Regions from separate parts of the Homo sapiens genome. Here all the other regions are linked to region 1. Evidence: fine-mapped expression QTL. A gene starts in region 1. Each other region holds a variant in brackets. All regions are shown on one strand. Distances are from middle to middle. Region 1 holds the start of MSRB2 (methionine sulfoxide reductase B2). Region 2 has its middle 280 kb from the start of KIAA1217. Region 3 overlaps LOC107984215 (a long non-coding RNA gene).

Region 1 (8,184 bases):
TCCAGTCCCTCATTCTTTCCCAAATGGTTTTTGGTAGGGAAAAGCAAATTGGCTTTTGCACTTATCTCCCATTTTTTGGTCATTCTATCCTATCTTTTAGGGATTTTATTATCAAATTTATAGTTTGCAGAGAAGTGTGTTGGATATACAAAGAGTCAAAGTTATAGAATTTTGCCTTTCCTGAAGATTCTCACAATCAAATTCAGGACATCAGATATACACTGTGTCAACTTCATGAAACAGAAAATCCCAGTAACAGTGATTTAAACAAAATATAGATTTATTGGTCTCTCATGTAATTGGAAATCTGAAGGCAGGCAATCCAAGACTAGCATATTGACTCCACACTGTCTTCAGAATCCTGGGCTCCTTCATGTCTTCTACTTCTTTAAAATCAAGATGTGGGTCTCATCTTCATGTATACCAGAAGATTGCCAGTGCTCCAGCCATCATGACTAATTTCCAAGCAGAAACAAAAGACAGAGCAAAAGTCCAGTGCTGAGCCAGCTCCTCTTTAACTAGTTTTCCTGGTAGCTCCCAGTGATGTCTGCTCCTATCATTGCCCATAACAGCATCATATGATTGCCACCAACTACAAGGGAGCTGACAGATGTAACATTTTAGCTAGGCATATTGCTACTCTTAATAAAATCAAAGATCTGTTTGTAAGTAGAGAGAGTGGATATCGGCCAGGCAAATGATAGTCTCTACCACTCAGTGTACAAAGTAAAAGGGAAAACATAAAGTAGAGTTTTGTTCAGGCTAAGACCATGTGTCCAAGAATGTGAGGTTAATGCATGGCCTTGATGGTTAAGTTGGATTCAGATAAATGGTGGTGAGAAGAGGGGACATTTTAAGACCAGTAAGGGCTTGATCACAGATGAGGTAAAGGTCCTCCTAGCAGGTGTAAAGGAGAATGGTGGTAGGGAGGGAGGGACTTCCTCTGTGCTTAGAATGTCTTTCTGGGAGTGTGAGGATATGTAGAAATGCAAGGATAGATTGGTTATCAGCTCTGTTTACCAATTACCGTTGTCCTCATTAAATCTTCAATAACAACTAACGTTTATTAAAACCAAGTATGTACCAAAGGGTTTGCTAGGTGTTTTAACGTATGTTGTATCTAATCCTTACAATAACCCCATTTTGGGGATAAGAAAACTGATCTGTCACAGGTTGAATACTTGATCAAGCTCATGCGTCTTTTAAATTTAAGATATTCTGACTTGAATGTGTTTTACACCAGACTCCATGATTTTTTTCCCACAATGTCACAATGTTAAGTTAATTTATTAACTTTGCTTGGGATTGGGGGTGAAGGTGGGTGAGTTAAACCGGTATTCCTTGATATTTTCTAAATTCTAAACTTTAGGGGAACTTTACAAACTCTTCAACTAACTAGCAGTGTGATCATAGACAAGGTACTTATCCTCTCTGGATTTGAATTTGTTTACTTATTACTCAGATACAAAACCAGACAGATACTATAAGAGAGGAAGCTTTCAGTCCAACATCCTTCATCAACACAGACACAAAAATTCTAAAAAAATGTAATCCATGATACATAGAACATAATCCAACAATACATGAAACAAATAATAAAACTGACAAAGCAGGCTTTATTGAAGAAATACTAAGTTGGTTTAACGTTTGAAAATCAAGTAACAAACTACAAAAAGAAAATAGGAAAAAGGTATGATTATATCAGTAGCTGCAGAAAAGCATTTGACAAAAATCCAACATCCCTTCCTGATAAAAACTCTCAGTAGACTACAAATAGAAATTTCCTTAATCTGATAGAAAATTTATGAAAAACTTATAGCTAATATCATACTTAATGGTAAAAGGCTGAATACTTTTCCTCTAAGATCAGGAACAAGACAAGGATGTTCACTCTCAACATTTCTATTCAACACTGCGCAGGCTCTAACCAGTGCAATAAGGCAAGAAAAAGAAATCAAAGACATCTGTATTAAAAAGAAAGAGTAAAACTCTTTCTACACAGATGACATGATTTTTCTATGTAGAAAATCTGATAAAATCCATAAAATGTTACTAGAACTAAGAAATGAGTTTAGAAAGATTACAGAATACAAGATCAATATACAAAATCTACATACTAGCAATCAGAAATTGAAATTGATAAAACAATACCACAGCATCAAAAATATGAAATGCTTTAGGATGAATCTATCAAAAGATGTGCAAAACCTATACAGTGAAAACTACAAAACACTACTAGTAGGTGTTAAGGAAGACCTAAATAAATAGATAGGCATATCTTTATTCATGGGTCAAAAGATTCAATATTGTTATGATATTAATTTCCCCCAAACTTATGGATAGAATCAATGCAATCCCAATCAAAACTTAAGTAAGATCATGTGTAGAAATTGACAGACTGAATCTAAAATTTATGTTGAAATACAAAAGACCTAAAATAGCCCAAACAACCTTAAAAAAGAACAGAGGTACAGTACCAATGCTAGCTGGTTGCAAGTCCAGTCATCAGGATATTGTAATATTGATGTAAAAATAGACAAATTAATTAATGGGACAAAATAGGAAGTCCAGAAATAGACACAACACATTGATAGGAAACTGATTTTTGACAGATTCAAAAACAGTTCAGTGGAGAAAGAGTAGTCTTTTAAAAATTGGTGCTAGGAGCCAGGCCTGGTGGCTCACGCCTGTAATCCCAGCACTTTGGGAGGCCGAGGCAGGCAGATTACCTGAGATCAGGAGTTCAAGACCAGACTGGCCAACATGGTGAAACCCCGTCTCTACTAAAAATACAAAAATTAGCCAGACGTGGTGGCACACGCCTGTAATCCCAGCTACTCAGGAGGCTGAGGCAGAAGAATTGCTTGAGCCTGGAAGATGGAAGTTGCAGTGAGCCAAGATCGTGCCACTGCACTCCAGCCTGGCCGACAGAGACTCTGTCTCAATCAATCAATCAATCAATCAATAAAAATGGTGCTGGAACAACTGGATATAGATATGCAAAAAACAAAACAGATAAACAAAACAAAACAAAAATTTTGGCCATATATAAAAATTCTAAATCGGTCAGAGACCTAAATGTAAAACCTAGAACTATAAAAATTTTAGAACAAAACATAGGAGAGAATCTTTGTGATCTTGGATTAGGCAAAGATTTCTTAAATATGATACCAAAAAAAGAACAATCCATTAACAAATTGATAAATTGGGCTTCATCAAAATTAAAAACTGCTCTTCCCAAGACAATATTAGGAGACAGAAAAGACAAACAAGAGACTGGGAAAAAAAATCTTTGTAAAGCATATGTTTGATAAAAGATTTGCATCCAAAATATATAAAGTGTTCTAAGCTCAATAATGAAACAACTCAACATTAAATGGGCAAAAGATCTGAACGGACACTTCACCAAGGAAAATACACTCGCTGCAAATACGCACATGAAAAGATGCTTAACATCATTAACGATTAGAGAATGCATAATAAAGCCACAATGAGCTACCACTACACAGAACCGGAACATCTACAGTTAAAATCTCTGGACTTTCAAGTGTTGGCAAGGATGAAGAACAACTGGAACTCGCATAGACTGCTAGTGGGAAGGTAAAGAAAAAAACCACTTGGGAAAACAGTATAGTAGTTTCTTAAATGGTTACACCTACCTTACGACCTGGGCATTCCACTTCCAGGTATTTACCCCAGAGAGGAAAAACCGTATATGTCTGTACAAAGATTTGCACAGGGATGTTCCTAGCAGCTGTAGTTCTAATCAGGAAAAATTGAAAGCAGGCTAAATCAAGTGCTGACTAAACACACGGTGGTATATCCATAAATGGAATACTGCTCAGGAAGCAATGAATGATTGTTCCATGCAAAAACACGCAGGCATGTCAAAGTAACTATGTTGAGTGAAAGAAGCCAGACAAAATCAAGTACATATGGGATGATTCCATTTATGGACGACTCTAGAAAATGCAAACTAAAACAGATCAGTGTTTGGGCTGCGGATGAGTGGAGTTGGGATAGGTGGAGGGGGGCAGGGCGAGGGAGGAGCAGGAGTGGGAGGAGCTGGGAGATGCAGAGATGGGTTGGGGAGGGTCTCATGGAAGGGAAGGGAGAGAGGAAGGGGGAGAGGAAGGGGGAGGAAAGGCAAGGGGAAAAGGAGAGGAAGAGGGAGGGGGAGAGAGAGGCAGAGTGGGAGGAAAGAGGGGCGGGGACCTGGGAGGGCCCAGGGCACATAGTGGGAGGAGCAGGTGGGAAGGAGGGAAGGAGGGAGGGGCAGGGGAGGGAGAAGAGGGGGAGGGAGACGAGGGGACTGGCGGTGTGGGCGGAGCGTGGGGAGGGAGGCCGACTAGCGCAGGCGGACGGGAGAGAATGGGGGAGGGGTGGGATGGGAGCAGGGGCAGAGACGGGCAGAGGGCAGAGGGCGGAGCGGCGCCGGAGCGGGCGTCATGGCGCGGCTCCTCTGGTTGCTCCGGGGCCTGACCCTCGGAACTGCGCCTCGGCGGGCGGTGCGGGGCCAAGCGGGCGGCGGCGGGCCCGGCACCGGGCCGGGACTGGGGGAGGCAGGTAGGACGCGGGTCCCGCAGGCCCCGCCGCCGCCTACGGCTTTCGGCTTCATTTCACCGGCTGCACCCGGGAGCCTAGGGCCGGTCCAGGCCGGGCGCTGCCCTCCTACTAAGCCCTCCTCGGCGCGCCCCTCCCCCCCCCCAGCCCGAGGATCTGGGACAGTGGATTGTAAACTTGGTGGCGGCAGGGTGGGGACTGACCCCTGTGAGAATCCGAGGAAATGAACAAATGATCCCCCTAAATGTGCGCATAATTTTTTTTTTCTTGGCTCGGGGAGTGGGGGCATAAGTGGGGCTCGGGGGCCTCTGACCCCTATCGGGGACTCCAGGCGAAGGCCCGGGGCCTGGGCTGTAGCAGCCCGGCCCGCGCGCCCCTGCGAAGGCCCCTAGTATTTTGCATTGCAGCCCTCTTCGTAGTTCCGCGGGCTTCCTTCCAGCATCTGAGAAGCAGGCAGTTCAGACTTGGGGTTCCTGTGAGTGTTTCCTGCCCTGCTGACTTCCCATAAATGTGTCTAAGAGCCAGGGAGACTGGGTTGATCATTTGTTCCTTCTTTAAGGTGACAGCCATTGTTAATGACTGAGACAGAGACCAGGGCGAGCCTGTGTGTGTGTGTCTCTCTCTCTCTCTGTGTGTGTGTGTGTGTGTGTTTCTGCTAAATACTTTTGGATCCTCTCTTGGATCTGGGTACCTGCACATTTCACCAAGCAGGAAGGAGTCACCTCGGGAGACCTGTGCCAGCTACCCCTGTATTTCAGTTCTATTTCAGGGTAACTTAGTGCCCCAGGGGATTGGCTTCCTGGGCGGTTGCCAGACTGACCCACTCTGAATCCAATTTTATATGTGTTCATTGAAGACATTCAGAGATACCCAACTGATGAAAATGTACCAACTCATTCTGAGCTCTTTTTAGCCCCTGAAGTTTTCGAAATGCAATATTGAAAGAATACGTAACTAAATAAAAGCGTTGGCGTTGTGGAATGTTAGCTCATCCAACTTGACTTCCAGCTATGGCCTTTCTAATCACTGGTGTCTCTAGTCAGTCTGATGACATTTGCTGTGAGCCTACTGTGTGCCAAGCATTGTATTGCTGAGAACCACAGGTGATAGAAACAGGTCACAGTTACCGACGAGCTCTCTATAACCCCTTGAAAAAGGATGGTGGTTTTAGCGGTAACTACTTCATGGCTGTAATTGCTGCTGTCAGAAGCAGCCTAATGAATTGCCCTGGGATCTGAAGTTCTCCAGCAACAATAAAATTTGGCCAGCCACCAGTAGGTAACAGGAGCTGTGTACCTTATCAGACACCCCTCCTGGGAATCTATTCGAAGGAAATAGTTCAAAAGAAGAACAAAGAGATATATGCAAAGATGCTTTAAGCACTAGTCTCTTACAAAATGGAAACTGGCTGTAACCCAAATCAGTTAAGAAATACTTACGTAAATCATGAAAATTCAATCCAACAAACTGTTAGGCAGCCATTAAAAATGATAAACGGAGTATTTCTGTGGTGAAGGGCTTGGGTATGAATAGATGCAGATTTTGAGTCTTGGCTCTCGGTTACTTCCTGGCTCTGTGTCTGAGCTCAGGCTGCTATTGCAAAACACCGTGGACTGGGTGGCTTCAACAACATTTTCTCACAGTTCTGGAGGCTGGGAAGTCCAAGATCAAGGTGGGAACAGATTTGGTTCCTGATGCAGACCTGCTTCCTGGCTTGCAGTTGACTGCCTTCTCACTCTGCCTTCAGGTGACTGTCTCAGGAAGGACCACTAATCCCTCAAGAGAGCCTCACCTTTATGATCTAATCTAAAACTAATAACCTCCCAAGCCCCACCTCCACATTCCATCTCATTGGGAGTTAGGGCTTTAGCATATGGGAGTGGGGAGAGGAGCAGGGAGAACATATAATATTCAGTTTGTAACAATGTCTTTGGACATGTTTCTTGAATTTGGAAAGTTTAAACTTCAGATTTTTTTTCCTTCTGTCAAATAAGGATAATGATAATGGTAGGGTTGTTGTAAAGAATAACTTTTTAATTAAATATTTTGTTACAATGCTTGACACTTAGGCACACAATAAATGTTAGTTATGATTACATAAATAAGTGGAAAGGACAAAAATGTAGCTACATTTAACTTACATCATGGGCTTCGGGAGTGTTGAGAGAGAGGGAGACATTGGGAGGGGGGAAATGAGAAGATATTGAAATGACAGTATTTTTTTCCAGTGCTGCAATTTCTCATATGCTTAGAGTGATTTTTTTTAATCCAGATTGACAAAGAGCAAACTGAAAAAGGAAAGTAAGAAATATTCTGGAGCAAAAAATCTGTTGCTTCAGGAAAATATTCTTTCTAGAGATGACTATGCTAGGAAACTGTCCTGGGCATAGGGTTAAAATAGTCCAGGCACTGGTGGGAGAGACTAGTTCTGCAGATCAGAATGGGCTGGGGATTCTTTTAATACCAGTTTCTAAAGAGTTCCATTAGATTCAACACATTATTTATCAAAATGGAGTGGGCTTATGTGTGACAATTGGCAGTATAGCAACTGTGGCCAGGAAGGTTAGCAAAACCCGAAGGAGGCACCCAGTAGGTGACCATAGGACCAAGAGTGGATTTCCTTAGGGATGAAAAAATCGAGGCCCACCCCGTAGAACTTCTGACCAACAAAATATATGGCCTGTGCAAATCACAGCACACAGAGAGAAGGGAACTCCAAGGAATTTGAGTTTATTAAGGCATAATTCAAAGTAAAGCTGTGTAGTTATCTCATGCAATAGCAGCAACCGATAAATGTTTTCATAGTGAAGATAGCAAGAGAATGTAGAGGGAATCTGGAAAATGTGTAGCCCCCAAAGGATGAGCACGTGGTGCAGAGGACAGAAAATACCTGCACACACACAGAAAAGGACACAGCCAGTGTTGAAACCTCTCTCTAGCCACGGTAGCCAGAAGACTTGACTCATTCCCAAGTGAGAGACCTTGTCGTGTATCTAATTTACACGTGCCTAAATTGCTGTTTGATAAAACTGCTCAGAATTTACTCATACTGTAATTTTTATTTAAACTTTGGTTGTTTTCTAAAGCCCCAGTGTGTTCATTTGCTAGGGATCCCATAACAAAATATCACAGGCTGGGCAGCTTAAACGATGGAATTCATTTTCATACGGTTCTGGAGGCTGGAAGTCCAAGGCCAAGACTTGTCCTGAGATTTGTCCTGAGACCTCTTTCCTTAACTTGGGGATAGCTGCCTTCTTGCTGTGTCCCCAGGCGGCCTTTTCTCTGCTGTCCCTTCCTCTTATGAGGACACCAGTCTTATTGGACCAGGGCCCCCTCTTAATGGCCTCATTTTGACATGATTGCCTCTTTAAAGGCCCTGTCTCTAAATGCAGTCACATTTTAAAGTACTGGGGATTAGGACTTCAACATATGAATTTGGAAGTTGGCGGGCAGGGAGTGTCACAATTCAGCTCATAACATCCAGGTCAAAGAAACCTCTTAAAGTGATACAGCCCACATATAACCTGACCTGGGTGTACCCAACTGAGCGTTCATCATTTTGCTATCAAAGCAAAGTCTGTCTGCCCTTGACTGAGCCTTCTAGGCTGGCAAATTCTGCAG
Region 2 (8,184 bases), 830 kb after region 1:
ACAGCAGCAATGTCAGTAGAAGCAGAAGGAAAAAGATAAGGAAACAACTTACAAAGGCTGGCAATTTCTTGCTTTCCTTCTTCTCTTTCAGCATACATAGGCATGCCCCTGATCAACAAATATTTACTAAGCCAGTGCCAGGCCCTGGGTTAGGCACTAGAGAGGCATCAGGAAATAAAACTCCCGGAGCTTCATTCTAGTGGAGAGACATGAAAGAAATTATAGATATATTAAGGGCCGATACATACTAAGTCCTGCCTTCTGCCCTCAACCCACCTCCTCTCTGCATTCTGCAAGGATCAGTCTCTTTTGACTGTCGCTGGACTTTTCCAACTCGTTTAATACATTTCCAAGCTTTTGAAAGACTTTTCTGAGTGAATTGCAGCTTAACAAAGTTCACTTTTATGCTGTGTTCCATGTTTCGAAGGCAGAGGCATCAGTTTTCCCTGAGCCTTTAATCATCCTTCAGGACTTGCCATCTCAGAATGAGGTGCTGCCCTTCTGTGATCATGGAGGGAAGAAGTGGAACACGCCCTAAGTGACTGTAGACAGACTGGATTCATTTCTGGTCCCTGTCTCTTTCCAGCTCTGTGGCCTTAAGCAAGTAAATGAATTCCTACAAGCTTAGGGTCTGGGATCCAAAGAGGCCCAATAAAATAATACTCCTCTTTTCTGCAGGAGTTTTGATCAGCTGAGAATTGATGCAAAGTAGTAAAGCAAATGGGTGTCAAAACAGCACCTGTATTCTGAGTCAAAGGGAATCTGGCTTATATATGAAGGCCAATAAACTTTCTCATACTGGATTTCAAAATGCGCATACTTACCCACACCCCATCACTGTGGTCCTCGATCCAGGCAGACCTCCCCATACTGAGGCAGAGACTGCACCTGGCAAAGCAGCTGTGAAAATCAGCTCAGGTGCATTGGTCCTCAGGAAAAAGAAGGAAGAAGGGGAATCTACACAGGCTCAGTATCTCCTCCCTGTTCCTTAATTAGATTCAGTCAGTTCTCCCACCCAGGGCCGGGATGGGTGGAGGGGGCTGGGAAAAAATAAAATACAGGGGCAGAAGTGTAGCCACTTAATTTCTCTGCATACAAAAGGAGGCAACAGAAGTCAAGAAAAGTCTAATACTTGAGTTTCTTGTCTTTGAAACAGGATTAATACACATCTCATATGAAAATGATGACCATGCTAAGAATGATAGAGAATGCTGTCAATATTTCCATATGAGATGTGCATTAGTCCTGTTTCAAAGGTAGGCCCGGAGCAGTGGCTCACGCCTGTAATCCCAACACTTTGGGAGGGCGACGTGAGTGGATCACCTGAGGTCAGGAGTTCAAGACCAGCCTGACCAACATGGTGAAGCCCCGTCTCTACTAAAAATACATAAATTAGCTGGGCGTGGTGGCAGGCGCCTGTAATCCCAGCTACTCAGGAGGCTGAGGCAGGAGAATTGCTTGAACCCGGGAGGCGGAGGTTGCAGTGAGCTGAGATCATGCCATTGCACTCCAGCCTGGGTGACAGAGCAAGATTCTGTCTCAAAAATAAATAAATAAATAAATAAATAAATAAATAAAGTGCCTGGAAAATTGTTACCTGCTTGCCTCCCTTCCTCCCTCTTTTCTTCCTCCCTCTTTTCGATCCTTCAATCTTTATCTCTCTTCCTCTGTGTTTAGAGAAAGTTATTTGAGACAGCAGTCTATCCTATTTATTTATCTGTTTATTTATTTATTCTTTTTTTGAGACAGGGTTTCACTTTGTTGCCCAGCCTGGAGTGCAGTCACGTGATCTGGGCTCACTGCAGCCTCGACTTCCCAGGTTCAAGCAATCCTCCCACCTCAGCCTCCCGAGTACCTGGATCCACAGGCATGTACCACCATGCCTGGCTAATTTTTGTATTTTTTGTAGAGACAGATTTTCTGATGTTGTCCAGGCTGATCTTGAACTTCTGATCTCAAGTGATCCTCCCACCTCAGCCTCCCAAAGTGCTGGGATCCTATTTATAAATTGCTATGCTGGGATCCCAAAGTGCCTGGTCTATCTTATTTATTTTAACTGCCTGAAAATTTTTACTATAAGTTATTTCTGTTCCAGCAGTAGTTCCATTTTCTCTCACAAGGCTCACCCTAGCAAGTCATAGGGTGTGTGTGTGTGTGTGTGTGTGTGTGTGTGTGTGGCCAAATGTTTTCTATACATTGAGGTTCTCCTCTTGCATTACCACTGATCATTATTCTATTTAAAGTGTAACGTGAAAATATTATGAGAATTAGTGCCACACAAAACTAGTAGTAAATCAGAGGTAGATTTTGAAGGATCAAAATCAAATTTTATTTTCCTGTGAGAGAAGGATGACATGCTGTGAGATGCTCATATGTGATTGAAAGTGATTATGTGAGCTCATGAAAGTAGAATCTTAAGGAAGACAAAATGGTGATGCACTAGGCTTTTGGTTATATATTTTCAGGATGAGATTTATAAACCCTCTGTCCTTTCCCAGAATAAATGCTTCTGAATGTTTTCTTGCTTTGAGCTCCCTGAATGTCACCTGGTTTCCGTGTTGGGGGTTCTGCAGCAGATTCCCATATAAACAGATGTGCTATTCAGGCCTCCGGAGACAGTAAGATTCTTTTTCAGGCTTACTTCTGAAACTAGTGCGCGATAAACCAAATGTCACATTGAACATAAGACTTGGGAGGAAATACACATATAAAACAGCTAATTAAATGGAAAAAATGGTAATCATAAGCTTGCCTAATTCAATCACTGAAGGACTTGTGCTGTTAAACTTTAGGCCAGATGCAGTAACTCGTCCACCCAGCAGACCAGCATCATGGGCTGCTGGCAGGGTACTTGATATCTGTTAAAAAGCATAGCTTAAAAGAAACAATGGCTAAGCTGTCTACCTCTGTAGGCTTGGCTGGCTTTTGCCTAATCATCAAGCATTTCAGTCCCTCTTTGAGACATTGTGCTTGTGTATTTCACAAGGAAGCCACATCTGGCAGCTCCTTCGAGCAGCACAGGGTCCCCTGAGAGCAGTTTAGGCTTGGTAGGGCCACGGTCCAGATGGACTGGGGGAGGAAACGTTGTTTCTAGCTCTTTCTTTGAAAGCAAATCACATATTCTAGTGGAAAATATTGCTTTTCAAACAGTTACCTGAGAAAGCAGCTTCCCAGAATTTGCGGTGAATTTTAGTTTTCCGTGGCATGATAGATCTTTCTCTTTGCTAATTGCTTGATGAATTGTTCATCATGCAATTAGCAAATGATGATTTGTTCATTTATTTGTTTATATAAATGTATATGGTCATTCATTTAATAAGTAGTTATTGAGCACCTACTGTTTGCAAGACATTACTCTAGGGCCTGGGGATGGAGTACTGAACAGGGCATGACAGGATCCTTGTTCTCCTGTAACTTAAAGTCTTTGAAGATGGAAAACGGTCAATGAGCAAGGAATTACACTCATACAATTACATAGTGCTTACTACGTGTCATGCCCCCAACAACCTCATGAGGTAGATACCATTATTATCCGCATTTTACAGACAAGGAAACTGAGACACTTATAGCTCAAGGGTTCACATAAGTAGTAAAGACCTTGAACACAGGCAATATGGTTCCAGATTTTGTTTTGTTCACTTCCACATTGAAAATTTAAAAAGGGCAAGGTGATAGCCACTCTGTGGCCATCTTACCTGGAGAGGTCTCAGAAGGCCCCTCTGTCTGAGGAGATGACCTATAAGTTGAGGTCTGAATGACAAGTCAACTATGCAAAGGTCTAGACAACGAACTGTAAGGGCAGAGGTTCCAGCGTACACAAGCTTGGCATGATAGAGGACCAGAAAGAAGATCAGTGTGCCAGGCAAGGCAGAAAGAAGAGGTACAAGATGAGGTGGTTATGCAGAGGCCAAATCAGGTAGGGCCTTGTAAGCCAAGAAAAGGAGATGGAATGTTTATTATTATTATTTTAATATTGCTATGCTAAGAAATAAAATGAAGTAAATTGTAAAACACAAAATCTCTCATTTATTGTCAATTATTCATGCAATTCTTCATGGCTAACCACCACAAAGTCTGCATCAGTTAGAAAGAAAAAAATATGAACTCACTGAAATAATGGATTTTATTTTATTTTTTATTTTTTTTTATTTTAGACTAAGGGGGCACATGTGCAGGTTTGCTGCATGGAGATATTGTGTGATGCTGAGGTTTGGGCTTCTGCTGAACCCAATAGTGAGCATAGTACCCAATAGGTAGTTTTTCAATACTTGCTCACTTCCCTCCTTCCTCACTTTTGGAGTCCCCAGTGTTTATTTTCCCATCTTTAAGTCCACGTGTACCCAGTGTTCAGCTCCCACTTGTAAGTGAGAACATGTAGTATTTGGTTTTCTGTTCCTGTGTTAATTTGCTTAAGATAATGGCCTCCAGCTGCGTCCATGTTGCTGCAAAGGACGTGATTTCATTCTTTTTTTTGTGGCTGCGTAGTATCCATGAGGTATATTTTCTTTATTCAATCCACAGTGGATGGGCACCTAAGTTGCTTACATCTCTTTGCTATTGTCAGTAGTGCTGCAATAAACGTATGAATGTAGGTGTCTTTTTGGTGGAATAATTTATTTTCCTTTGGATATATACCCAGTGATGGGGTTGCTGGGTCAGATGGTAGTTCTGTTTTAAGTTCTTTGGGAAATCTCGGAGCTGATTTCCACAACGGCTGAACTAATTTATATTCCCACTGATAGTGTATAAGCATTCCTCTTTTTTTGGGAAATCTCTGAGCTGATTTCCACAGGGGCTGAACTAATTTATAATCCCACTAATAGTGTATAAGCATTCTCCTTTTTCTACAACTTTGCTGGCATCTGTTATTTTTTGACTTTTTTGCTAATAGCCATTCTGACTGGTGTGAGATGATATCTCATTGTGGTTTTAATTTGCATTGTTCTGATGATGACTGATGTTGAGCATTTTTTTCATATCTTTCTCGGTCACTAGTTTGTCTTCTTTTGAGAAGTGTTTGTTCATATCCTTCACCCACTTTTAAATGGGGTTATTTGGTGCTTTTCTTATTGATTTATTTATGTTTCTGAAATAAGGGATTTAAAAAATCA[A/G]CCCCAGGATCTTTAAATATATATACAGAAAAATGTCAACCTTCTATAACATCTGTTTCTATGTCATCTTATATAGTTATTATCTAAATATGCAAGCTAAAAAATTGTCGAAAGTCCTCATGAAGGGTGGTGGTGCTTCCAAAGAGCTATGTCCACATTTGTTCTACATCCTGTATTATTTGCTCTCAACTCGGCAGCAGACATTTTTTCACATTCGAATGTTTCTAAAACTGGTTTGCATCTTACAGTCAAGATGCACACAGATATACTAGCAAGATAATTGGCAGGGCCTTTCAGAAATTACAATTTCTGCATCTTGCTTGGAAAGGGCAATATGAGAAGTGAGTTATTTACAATTTGCACAGAAATCAGAGTCAGTGAAATAGACTTTTCCAGTGTATCTGTGATTCATCAGGAAAAAGACATTGGAGGACATTCTCTTTTCCTTCATTGCACTCGAGCTCTGATTTACATAAGTTAACTCAGTGGGAACATGGACTCCTGAGGGTGAGGCCTGGATTTCCTGCCCTTAACAATCATGTGACCTTGTTGTATGTTTCACCTTCTTAGATGGCCCTTTGGTATTGAGCCTGTCCTTCCTCACGTGTGCCTCCCCTTGGTCTCCTGAAGATACACCCAATTATACAGGAGTTCTAGTTCATTGTCTTTTTTGCAATTAAAGAATACATGCATATCTTAAGTCTGGTGGAACTATCATCATATTGAATGTAGCAACAGAATATTCTATTAAATACTTTTCTATAATTTTCTATAGTTCCTACTTCTAGGCTGCAAGCTAACTCACCCCGCCTGCTTCTACCATGTCTTACTTATAACAACAACTAGCATTTATTGGGTTCTTCCTAGGGGTCAAACATTATGTTAAATTCATTACATGGATGTTCTTGTATAATTCCTACAATAATTCTGAGTGATAGGTATCAGCATTAGCTTGTCCATTTCATGGATAAACAAACTGAGCCCCAGAGGGAAAGAGTGACTTGTCCTTGATCGCATAACCAGGAAACAGCAAAGCCAAAATTTGAATCTAGAATCTGGGGACTTTGGTGTGTCCTCCACTCACCTATGCCCTTGCCCTTCACCCCTGTACCTAAATTGACCTGGAGAAAGAAGAGTCACTGTGTCAAGGCCATCCCATCTAACATTTACCTACACCCTGTCTTGCACTGATCATAGTGTGAGCTTTATCCACCAACTAGACTGGAAACTCCTTGAAATAGGAATTATGTCTAATAATCTTCCTGCACCCTCCCAATGCCTGACACAAATGTCCACATGGTCATGATAGGGGGATGGATTATCCCTGGTCAGCTATAGGAAACCTCATCAGATTGACCCAAAAGTGTCTGGTTACCTATCACAAACGAGCCCCACTTTCCTTTCTCATGGGTGGGGTTAGTTTCATCTTCTCGTATTTTACTTTAATATATGGCAGATATGCAGTTTCTTAAAACTTTTGTGTATCAGTAAGAGTCCTGGCAGGAAACAGATGGTTTACTCAAGCTGGGAAATTAAGGAGCATTTACTAAAGGGATTGTTTGCAAAGGCTTGGACAGTAAAGGATAATGCAGTCCTCCAGGGCTGGAGGATACAAGAGCTGTCACTACCCCCCTGTCTAAAGGGACAAAAAATGGGGCCAGTTACCAGACTCCAGAAAAGACCAGCTGGCAAGAGCTGTGGCAGTTGGTAAATGAAACAACCAGAGCAGCCCGGCAGGGAGGGCAGGGAGAGAGCAGAAGAATGCACACCTGGGCTTCTCCCTCCTCCAACTTCCATCTCTGCTGGTGCCTCCTCTTGGCTGAAGGTAACCAGAAGCTGAGGGGCAAGTGAGTCCTTGGTGCAGTCCTGAAGTTGACCTCCTGGGACAAAGGTGACATGGAGAAGGGCAAAGAAGGCATTTGGTGGAGAAAGGGGTTGATATTCATCACAGCTTGTGAGAAAAGTCAGGACTGTCGCCTGCAGGGTCCAAAAATGTAATTGATGAAAATAGCTTAGCTCTCGCTTATTTAATACAATTTTCATTCATTCATCAACTATTTGTTGATGGTCCCATATGTGCCCAGCAAAATGTACAAATTGAACCAGAATCTTCTAGTCTTAAAAAAAAAAAAGTGCAACTTTAGAGATTTGTGAAAACATTCACTGTTAAAAGCCACTTGAGCAATATAATGTATCCTCAACTCTGGGCCTAATACACAACTTTGAAGAAATGTGTGTGTGGGAGTGTTGAATAACTGGTAAAAATTTAACATATAAACTTTCCCAGAGGCTGTTAAACCCTATTCTCATGGAGCATTTTCTTTATGATTTTTAGATAGTAATATTTTAGCATCATCTTACCCCATACCACTGACATTTACTATTTGTTTTTACATTAAAAAACATGAGTTCTGAAGTCCTGAGATGTTATCTCTTTTCAAAGTAGCCAAATAGATTATATTAATCATTACTTTCTAGTTGGCAGATATAAAAGACCTGGTTGCACAACTGTGTGAGTTTCTTTAGAGCATCCTGGCCTTAAATTCCTACTTGGGATAATAATGAAGCAAAAATAAATAAGAATAAAGGTGCTTAGAAGAATTGATAAATATGAAATTGGAACCATATGTAAGGACCACCCTTGTTTTTAGGTTGTTGCTATGACAGGTAAATTGAATACCATAAGAACCTGGTATGAACGATTGGTTGATTAGCTAGAACTATGGGCAGTTTATAATAGCACAAAAGCTGTAGAGGCTTTGCCTTAGCATCACAACATTGCTGCTGATTGCTATTATTTTGGCAGTTTTACTTCTCATATAATAAAATCAGCTTATTATCTGCTAGGCGTTGTGGAGCTAGGGTCTGCTCGCTTGCATCCCAGCTTTACGTCTTCCCTGCAAGCTGTGTAATCACATTCTGCAGGGAGAGTTGAAGAGAGAAATGAATAGAGTTTCAGACCAAATAATATTTTTTGAAAAACTTCAGAGGACAATGCCATCTTTACCGGAAGGGTGCGTTAGTTTCTGAGATGACTGTACTGCTTTGGACTAGGGTTCCAGAGACCCAGGAC
Region 3 (8,184 bases), 23 kb before region 1:
TCGAAGGCAACAGGAAAAGTATGAAGTGGGCAAGTTGGCACAGGTGTGTGGGGAGACACTGGGGAGACCCAGATAGCCTCAGGCACACAGATGCCTAAGACCTCCTGGACCAGAGAGACTCCCAGCATCCCCCAGTTAAGCCCAAACCGGGCTCCTTCCCTGTCCCCCTATGTACCATAGGGTCCAAAAAGACACCGGTGTTCCACTGTCTCTGGAGCTGCCCAGTCCTGCAAAACGCAGCCTCCCCTTTCCCCGCCCTCCTCTTTTCCTCTTCTCCACGCCTCTGCTCTCTTCCTTTTCTCTCTTCCTGCCGCCCTCTCCAGTTTCCTTTTGCCCCTTCCGCCTTCTCAATTGCTTACCTTCTCCCCGACCGGCCTTCTCACTCCCATCTGGGGCTGGCAGTGCTCTTCTCTGTCCAACCAGTAATAACACATGAAGGCCTTCCAGGAACCTTAGGGAAGCCTGGAGTCAAGAGCCTCCAGGACCAGGCCTAGAGACTTAAAGGTGGACTATTCTGAGGCGTTGGGCGCCCCCTAGTGGTCCCTTCATGCCACCAATTCCCACAGGATCCATAACGATAACCTTTTTTACAGAGCGGAAGGTGTCTTTAGTTAGGCTAAGTGGAGACTGAAACAAGGACCTGGCCTAATAATGCACCAAAACTGTAGAAACCTTCTCTGATCCCTTACTTTCCAAAACATTTTTTATAAGAAGGTAGGTGGAATAAAAAGCAAGTTCAGCACGGAGCCAGTGCACTTCACAACAATGCTTAATTTGTCTAGAGCCCCCAGTAAGATGCACCAACTCAAAAGCAGGGTGAGACAGATGGCGGAGTCTATAGCAATGCAGAGATGATCCTGGGAAAAGCCATGGGCAGAAGAGATGTCGATCCAGCAATAGTGGAGGCTTGACAAGGCCCTGGCACTTGCACCTGCTGATTTTTATTTAAGGACACTCAAGAGGCCAGGTGGCTCATGCCTGTAATCCAAAAGCTGTGGTAGGCTGAGGCCAGAGGATTGCTTGAGCCCAGGAGTTCAAGAGCAGCCTGGGCAACATAGTCAGATCCCATTTCTACAAAAAAAAAAATAAAGAAAGAAAGAAAATTAGCCAGGCATGCTGGTGCATACCTGTAGTCTCAGCTACTCAGGAGTCTGAGGTGGAAGGATCACTTGAGCCCAGGAGTTTGAGGCTGCAGTGAGCCATGATTGCACCACTGTGTCCCAGTCTGGGTGACAGAGCAAGAACTTGTCTCTAAAAAAAATTAAAATGCTCAGGAATAAATTTCTCTATTCTACGCATGACACACATTCCTCTGAAAAACCGCACTGTGACAGGCCACACAGCTACCTACTCAGGATGCCCCAGAAAAAGTCCCAGCCACAGATTCTGTCTCCCTTAATGACTAGAGACCTCATTCTCTTTAAATGGCAGATTGTCCCAACCGCAAATCTCTTCTGCACAGTCAGCCTGGGATGCAAACAGATTGCTTTAACGTGTAACTTTGAAAGTCAGGTTGTCATAACCTAGAACTCTGGGAAGCCTCATCATGAAATCATAAAAGCTTGTGTTTGGCTAAAGCAATGTGTTCATGTATCAGTAATTCATGCAATCCTGTACAAATGCAATTTTAACAGATGTTAGCACATACCTGAACTGGTGGAACATTTCCATTAATAACTGTCTGCTTGTTCCGGGAGGCTGGGGAGCCTTATCCTCATCTGCCGGCTTAAGTTCAGGTTAGGCTGGGGATAGAATTTCCATGTAGACATTTTTAAAGTAACAGTAGTAGACGCTTGAAAGTTTCTAGCAAATGGCAGGACATAAATATGCGACCAGCGTGACTGTTTTTGCACAGGTTCACCCACGCAGTAATTACTCCTCAGTCTTATTTGATACATGCTAATTCCTATCTTGTTCTAATTGATTTGTTTTCAGGTCCCTGGGTCTCATAGTGACAACAGTGAAACAAAGAAGAATGATGGCATTTCCCAAAAAGGAACAACAGTTCCCACATGTGTCCAAGAGGAAGAACTGGCCATGGTTGGGGCAGGGTAGTAGTGGGTTAGGTGGTAGCAGTGTCTCCATGTATAGGGAGAAGCCCAGGGCAGGTAGGCTTTGGCTGCCATCCTCTGGCACCGAAGTTCTCCTTAGCAATTGCCCATCTCATTAAGACAGAAACGCATGAGAAAGGGAGAAGACTGTCCTGGTCAGGCTGGGTGCACACACACTCTTCTGGCTATTGCTGGAGTTAAGGCCCAGAAAGATCTTTTTTTTTGAGATGGAGTCTCGCTCTGTCACCCAGGCTAGAGTGCAATGGCACAATCTCGGCTCACTGCAACCTCTGCCTCCTGGGTTCAAGTGATTAGAAAGATCTATTCAGAGTGCTGATGGGCCAGGTGCGGTGGCTCATGCCTGTAATCCTAGCACTTTGGGAGGCTGAGGCGAGCGGATCACTTGAGGTCAGGAATTCCAAACCAGCCTGGCCAATGTGGCGAAAACCTGCCCCTACTAAAAATACAAAAAAATGCCAGGCGTGGTGAGGCATGCCTGTAATCCCAGCTACTAGGAAGGCTGAGGCAGGAGAATGGCTTGAACCCAGGAGGCAGAGGTTGCAGTGAGCCGAGACTGTACCACTGCACTCCAGCCTGGGTGGCAGAACAAGACTCCATCAAAAAAAAAAAAAAAAAAAAAAGTGCTGATGGCAGCACTTATCTTTTAATTGCACATTCCGATGGAACGTTCTTGTCACAATTTTATAGAAACCATTGTAAAATGCAGATGTGGACATGCACTTAAAACAGGGGTCACAGAGGCTGTTAAAGGACACAGAAAAACAGAGGGGAGACAGAGATTGGGTGACTCAAGTGCTAATATTCTTCTGTCTGGAGTAACAAGGTTGTTGCAGTTCAAGAAATAATGTGTTCTATAGTATCTGGTTATCTGTCTCCGATGTGCCCTTTGTCATGGTTGGGTACTCAGCCATGGGCTGTGCCCATGTTCAGGTGGCTCCTCAGAAGATTGGCTACTAACTACCCAATTTGCTGACACCATTATCTAATTGTAAGCAGTCAAGTAATTACTGACGCCATTAACTAAGGCTTAGGAGTGGTGTTCCCAAACCACAAGCCACTTTAAAAGAGAAGTGGTCCTCAGTGTCCCAGCTATTAACTATGACCCTGTATTTGCTAACCTGGCTAGACTGCAGTACAGGAAGCTGAAATGTGCTCTCTGTACTCATAGCATGATTCAATTCAAGGCACCTGTTCTCACACTAGACTGACGGAGCAGCAGTTCTCACACTTCAGCGGGCATCAGAATCAGCTGGACGCTGATGATTCCTGGGCCCCATTTTCAGAAATAGCCATTCTATTAGGCCTGGGATGAGGCCTCAGAATTTGCACTGTTAACAAGCTCCAGGTGAGCCTGCTTCTCTGGTCTGGGGCCACGCTTTGAGAACCACTTGCCTAGAATCTGAAAAAAATCTCCCACTTAGGCTAGCCTGAGTCTTTTTCTTTTTTTTTTTACATAGAGACAGGGTCTCGCTCTGTTGCCCAGGCTGGAGTGCAATGGTGTAATCATAGCTCACTGCAGCCTCAATCTCATGAGCTCAAGCAATTCCCCCACCTCAGCCTCCAAAGCAGCTGGGACTACAGGTGTATACCACCACATCTGGCTAATTTTTGTATTTTTTGGAGAGATGGGGTTTTGCCATGTTGCCCAGGCTGGTCTCGAACTCCTGAGCTCAAGTGATCCTCCTGTCTCAGCCTCCCAAAGTGCTGGGATTACAGGCATGAGCCACTGCACCTGGCTAGTTTCACTCTTTCTTTCCCAATGTCTGTGTAGCAAGAAATAGGACAGATGCTACTCAGTCCTGAAAAGTAAACTATCACCTTGGCTTACAACTGAAAGAGATGTGCAGTTTTGTGAATTTCTGAATCAAAGTCTCTTTATTAATAACCCACGCAATTCCCATTTTAGCCTTCTTTTTTTTTTTTTTGAGACGGAGTCTCGCTCTGTCGCCCAGGCCGGACTGCGGACTGCAGTGGCGCAATCTCGGCTCACTGCAAGCTCCGCTTCCCGGGTTCACGCCATTCTCCTGCCTCAGCCTCCCCAGTAGCTGGGACTACAGGCGCCCGCCACCGCGCCCGGCTAATTTTTTTTTGTATTTTTAGTAGAGACGGGGTTTCACCTTGTTAGCCAGGATGGTCTCGATCTCCTGACCTCATGATCCACCCGCCTCGGCCTCCCAAAGTGCTGGGATTACAGGCGTGAGCCACCGCGCCCGGCCTAGCCTTCTTAATGCCCTGGAGAGATTAGCACTAGAAACAAGAACACAAAATTGCAAAATGAATAACCTT[C/T]CGGTGCCCTGGAGAGATTAGCACTAGAAACAAGAACACAAAATTGCAAAATGAATAACCTTCCGGTGACAGCTGTGACCACACTGAGGGCATTGGAGCCAAATAAAAGTATACTCAACTGCTTGTTTATCTCATTTTGGACTCTGCATATATTCAGTCAGTCGAAGCTCTGAGATGCCTGAGACAAGGAATGAAAAGTAAGGAATTAATATCTCAATGCAACAATTCAAAACTGAGAAAAGAAGGTCGGGCACAGTGGCTCAGGCCTGTAATCCCAGCACTTTGGGAGGCTGAGGTGAGGGGATAACTTGAGGCCAGGAGTTCAAGACCAGCCTGGCCAACATGGCGAAACCCCGTCTCTACTAAAAGTACAAAAATTAACTGGGCGTGTTGGCGGGCACCTATAATTCCAGCTACTTGGGAGGCTGAGGCAGGAGAATCACTTGAACCCAGGAGGTGGAGGTTGCAGTGAGCCGAGATTGTACCATTGCACTCCAGCCTGGGCAACAAAAGCGAAACTCCATCTCAAAAAACAAAAACAAACAAAAAAATACTTGCTGATGCAGAGTGAACTCTCCACTGGACCTTCCTCTTTCAGAACGCTCCAGAACAAAAGTTGGCAGCAGGCCCTGTGTGCTTGTATTCCCCAAACTCCAGAGAATTCATGTCAAGTATTCTAAAAAATTCTCCCACCACTCTTTAGTCTGGCTTGTTAAGCCTCTGGCCAGGGGATCAGAGGCAAGTCTCCCTTCTTGCAGGCACTCCAATTTCCATAAATTCTATGTTGGAGAAAAGGAGAGAACTTAAAGAAAATAATAAGGAAGGCAGGGTTTCCCAGAACACTTTTTACCTGATCAGGAAGTGGAATAGAATAAAAGTCCTCAGGAAAAGAACTAGGATATCATTTCCCTTCTCTAAAGGATATTTTGTGGCTCATGGCTGTAATTCCAGCAATCTGGCAGGCTGAGGCAGAGGATCGCATGAGCCCAGGAGTTCAAAACCAGCCTGGGCAACACAGCAATACCCATTTCTACAAAAAAAAAAAAAAAAAGCCAGACATGGTGGCATGCATCTGTGGTCCCAGCTACTCAGGAGGCTGAGGCGGGAGGATCACTTAAGCCCAGGAGCTGAAGGCTGCAGTGTGCTATGATGGCACCACTGCACTCCAGCCGGGGTGACAAAGAGAGACCATGTCTCAAAATAAATGAAAAAATGAATGTTTGTGCCTCAAAATTCTTAGAATATTGACTCAAATTAGGATGAGATTCTGATTTCCTTCTTAGTGGAGCTCCCAGAAAGATTAGCTCCTAAAAATTTACTCTGAAGAGGAAAAAGAAACACATTGGTGTAAGTGACCTTCCAGACGCCTATTGTTCATCATGGTGTGAGTGCTGTGATATTCTCTTTCACTGTTTGGGAGCCACACTATCCCTTAGCCTTGCAAAAGGGAGCTCCTTCTGCGTTCTGTCTTACAACACAGGAAGATAGCACCTCATGGACCAAAGAGAGTCTTCAGCTGCCTTGACTTGTCAGGCATTCCTGTGTTAGGATTGACAGAGCATTCCTGGCTGGCACTTAATGAGTGTGCATGCCTGACTTAAGTTTTCCATTAGTGGCCTGTGTGTGCGCTGGGTTGTGGGGAGTGTTAAAATTTTTGACTTAACATAGTTTGGCAAATGACACAAGTCTTGTAAAAAACTAAATAACAGAGCCCAAGTGCAGTGTATCATGCCTGTAATTCCAGCACTTTGGGAGGCTAAGGTGGGAGGATCACTTGAGCCCAGGAGTTTGAGACCAGCCCGGGCAACATTGTGAAACCGCATCTCTACAAAAAATACAAAAATTGGTTGGGCATGATGGTATGTGCTTGCAGTCCCAGCTACTTGGGAGGCTGAGGTGGGAGGATTACTTGAGCCCAGGAGATAGAGACTGCAGCAGTGAGCCAAGATCACACCACTGTACTCCAGCCTGGGTGACAGAGCAAGACCCTGTCTAAAACAAAACAAACATACAAAAAGGAAAAAAATCAAAAACATACAGGGATCAGTAGAGTTCCTGGAATTCAAGGAATGTTAGATATTGGTTCTTATTTATAACCTAACATAGTTCTCATAAATAACCTGCTTGCTCTTTTCTCTATGTCTGTCTGTTTGCTCTGGTATTCTGTTTTTGTTTTTATTTTATTATATATTTTTTTGAGACAGGGTCTCACTCTGTTGCCCAGGCTGGAGTGCAGTGGAGCAATCATAGCTCACTGCAGCCTCCAACTTCCAGGCTCAAGCAATCCTCCTACCTCAGCCTCCTGAGTAGCTAGGACTACAGGTGTGCACCAGCACACCTGGTTAATTTTTGTATTTTTTTGTAGAGACGAGGTCTCACTTTGTTGCCCAGGCTGGTCTTGAACTCCTGGGCTCAAGTGGTCCTCCTGCCTCAGCCTCCTAAGTGTTGGGATTACAAGCTGCACTGCTACTCTTGCATCTTCCAGCTTCCCCAATTCTCTCTCTATCCATACCTCCTTCAAATCTCACTCCTTTTAGGAAACTATCCCGGATTTTCCCAGCTTATCCCCAGTTGTGTTTTCATTCACGTGAATCTACATATTAACTGCCAGAGTTGGTTAGAGGTGCATGAAGATGGAAATAATACCTTGTCCTTCATTTTATGACCTTCCACAAACACGTAATAAATACTTGTTAAGTCCTTAAACGAGGTAGCAGTCACAGTATGGTGAGTTTGCAGATGATGCCTCTTTAATTCATAATTTGAAAGTATAACGTTCTATAAAATTATAAATAATAACTAATCAAGAAGTAGATGATTTTTATTCAAGTGAAGATTATTTATTAACAAAAGCATGAAAATAGATGCTACCCTGTGTGGATAATTACTAGATCCACATGAACTTGGCTTTCAGAGAAGTGGAATGTGATGTTCTGCTTTTTCATTTGTAAGTCAATCATCCAAAAACCCAGACAGATCTAGGCAAGGAAAGAGAAGGGAGGTAAAATGTAATCAACATAGGCTGCAATGGCCTGCTTATTCAGCTGTTAAGACATGCAGTAAAATGGAAACTTTTAAATAAAGTGTATGCATTCATTATAACAAAAAAATGAATACATTTAATCAAAACATGGGCCTTTAGGATAATAAACGGAGAACAAAAAATAGAATGTGTTGAGATAATCAAGACAAAATAGCTATGATCGTTTTGATCATCTCGATTTCACTATGGCCCTCCTACAGGGTCCTGTAGTGCATAAAAGTTGTTGGAAAAACAGCTCCGCCTCTAAAAAACACAAGGGAACCAGAAGAGGTCAATCTTGCATTTGCATAGTGAAGCATAAAGAATCTGCATTAGAGGTCAGAAAATACAAGTTATTGATCTGTGTCTAATCCTTTAGGTGTGTGAAACTCGGTAAAGTATCAGCCTCTATGGATCTCATTTGGCTAAAATGCAAATAAAGAGTTTGAATCTGATGACCTCTAAGGCCCCTTCTGGTCTAAAATTCAGCACAATGCTTGCAAAGGCTTGGAAGAATCAACTCCTATTACTCTGTGTGTTCAGTTCTTAATTATGAATGGTAAGATGACTGCATCTTTAAAACATTGTCATTTCATGAACCTGTCATGGGTTGACTACTCTCTAGCTTTGCCATGATGTGGATAGGCATGAGGGTGGGGTTTCACTTTATCATGACGAAAGCCACAGTACAGACCGTACATTTTCTGCTATATACTTGGAAAGGAGACACTTTCTCAGACTAGAAAATGAATCAGAAGATTGAGGGAAGTTAGGAAGCATGAATCAGGGTTCCTTGGCCTTGTT

Evidence for each region.
Region 2: its variant is fine-mapped to the expression of MSRB2 in whole blood (TOPMed, PIP above 0.99).
Region 3: its variant is fine-mapped to the expression of MSRB2 in whole blood (TOPMed, PIP above 0.99). The same link has a PIP of 0.9 or more in blood mononuclear cells, monocytes and neutrophils.

What each region holds. Positions count from the first base shown.
Region 1 is chr10:23,091,161-23,099,344 of GRCh38, forward strand. MSRB2 (methionine sulfoxide reductase B2) reads left to right here and starts at 4,419. Exons shown (of 5, transcript NM_012228.4): 1 at 4,419-4,566. The coding sequence starts at 4,449. It overlaps LOC107984215 (a long non-coding RNA gene), which reads right to left and starts at 4,119. Exons shown (of 3, transcript XR_001747394.2): 1 at 3,660-4,119. RefSeq lists a silencer at 4,227-4,696.
Region 2 is chr10:23,925,184-23,933,367 of GRCh38, forward strand. It overlaps a transcript of KIAA1217 not described here. Among named protein-coding and RNA genes, the nearest start is that of KIAA1217, 280 kb to the right of the region's middle. The variant A/G (reference allele first, on the strand shown) is at 5,112.
Region 3 is chr10:23,067,827-23,076,010 of GRCh38, forward strand. LOC107984215 (a long non-coding RNA gene) reads right to left here. Exons shown (of 3, transcript XR_001747394.2): 2 at 1,649-1,742. Among named protein-coding and RNA genes, the nearest start is that of MSRB2, 24 kb to the right of the region's middle. RefSeq lists enhancers at 334-628, 2,874-2,983. The variant C/T (reference allele first, on the strand shown) is at 4,359.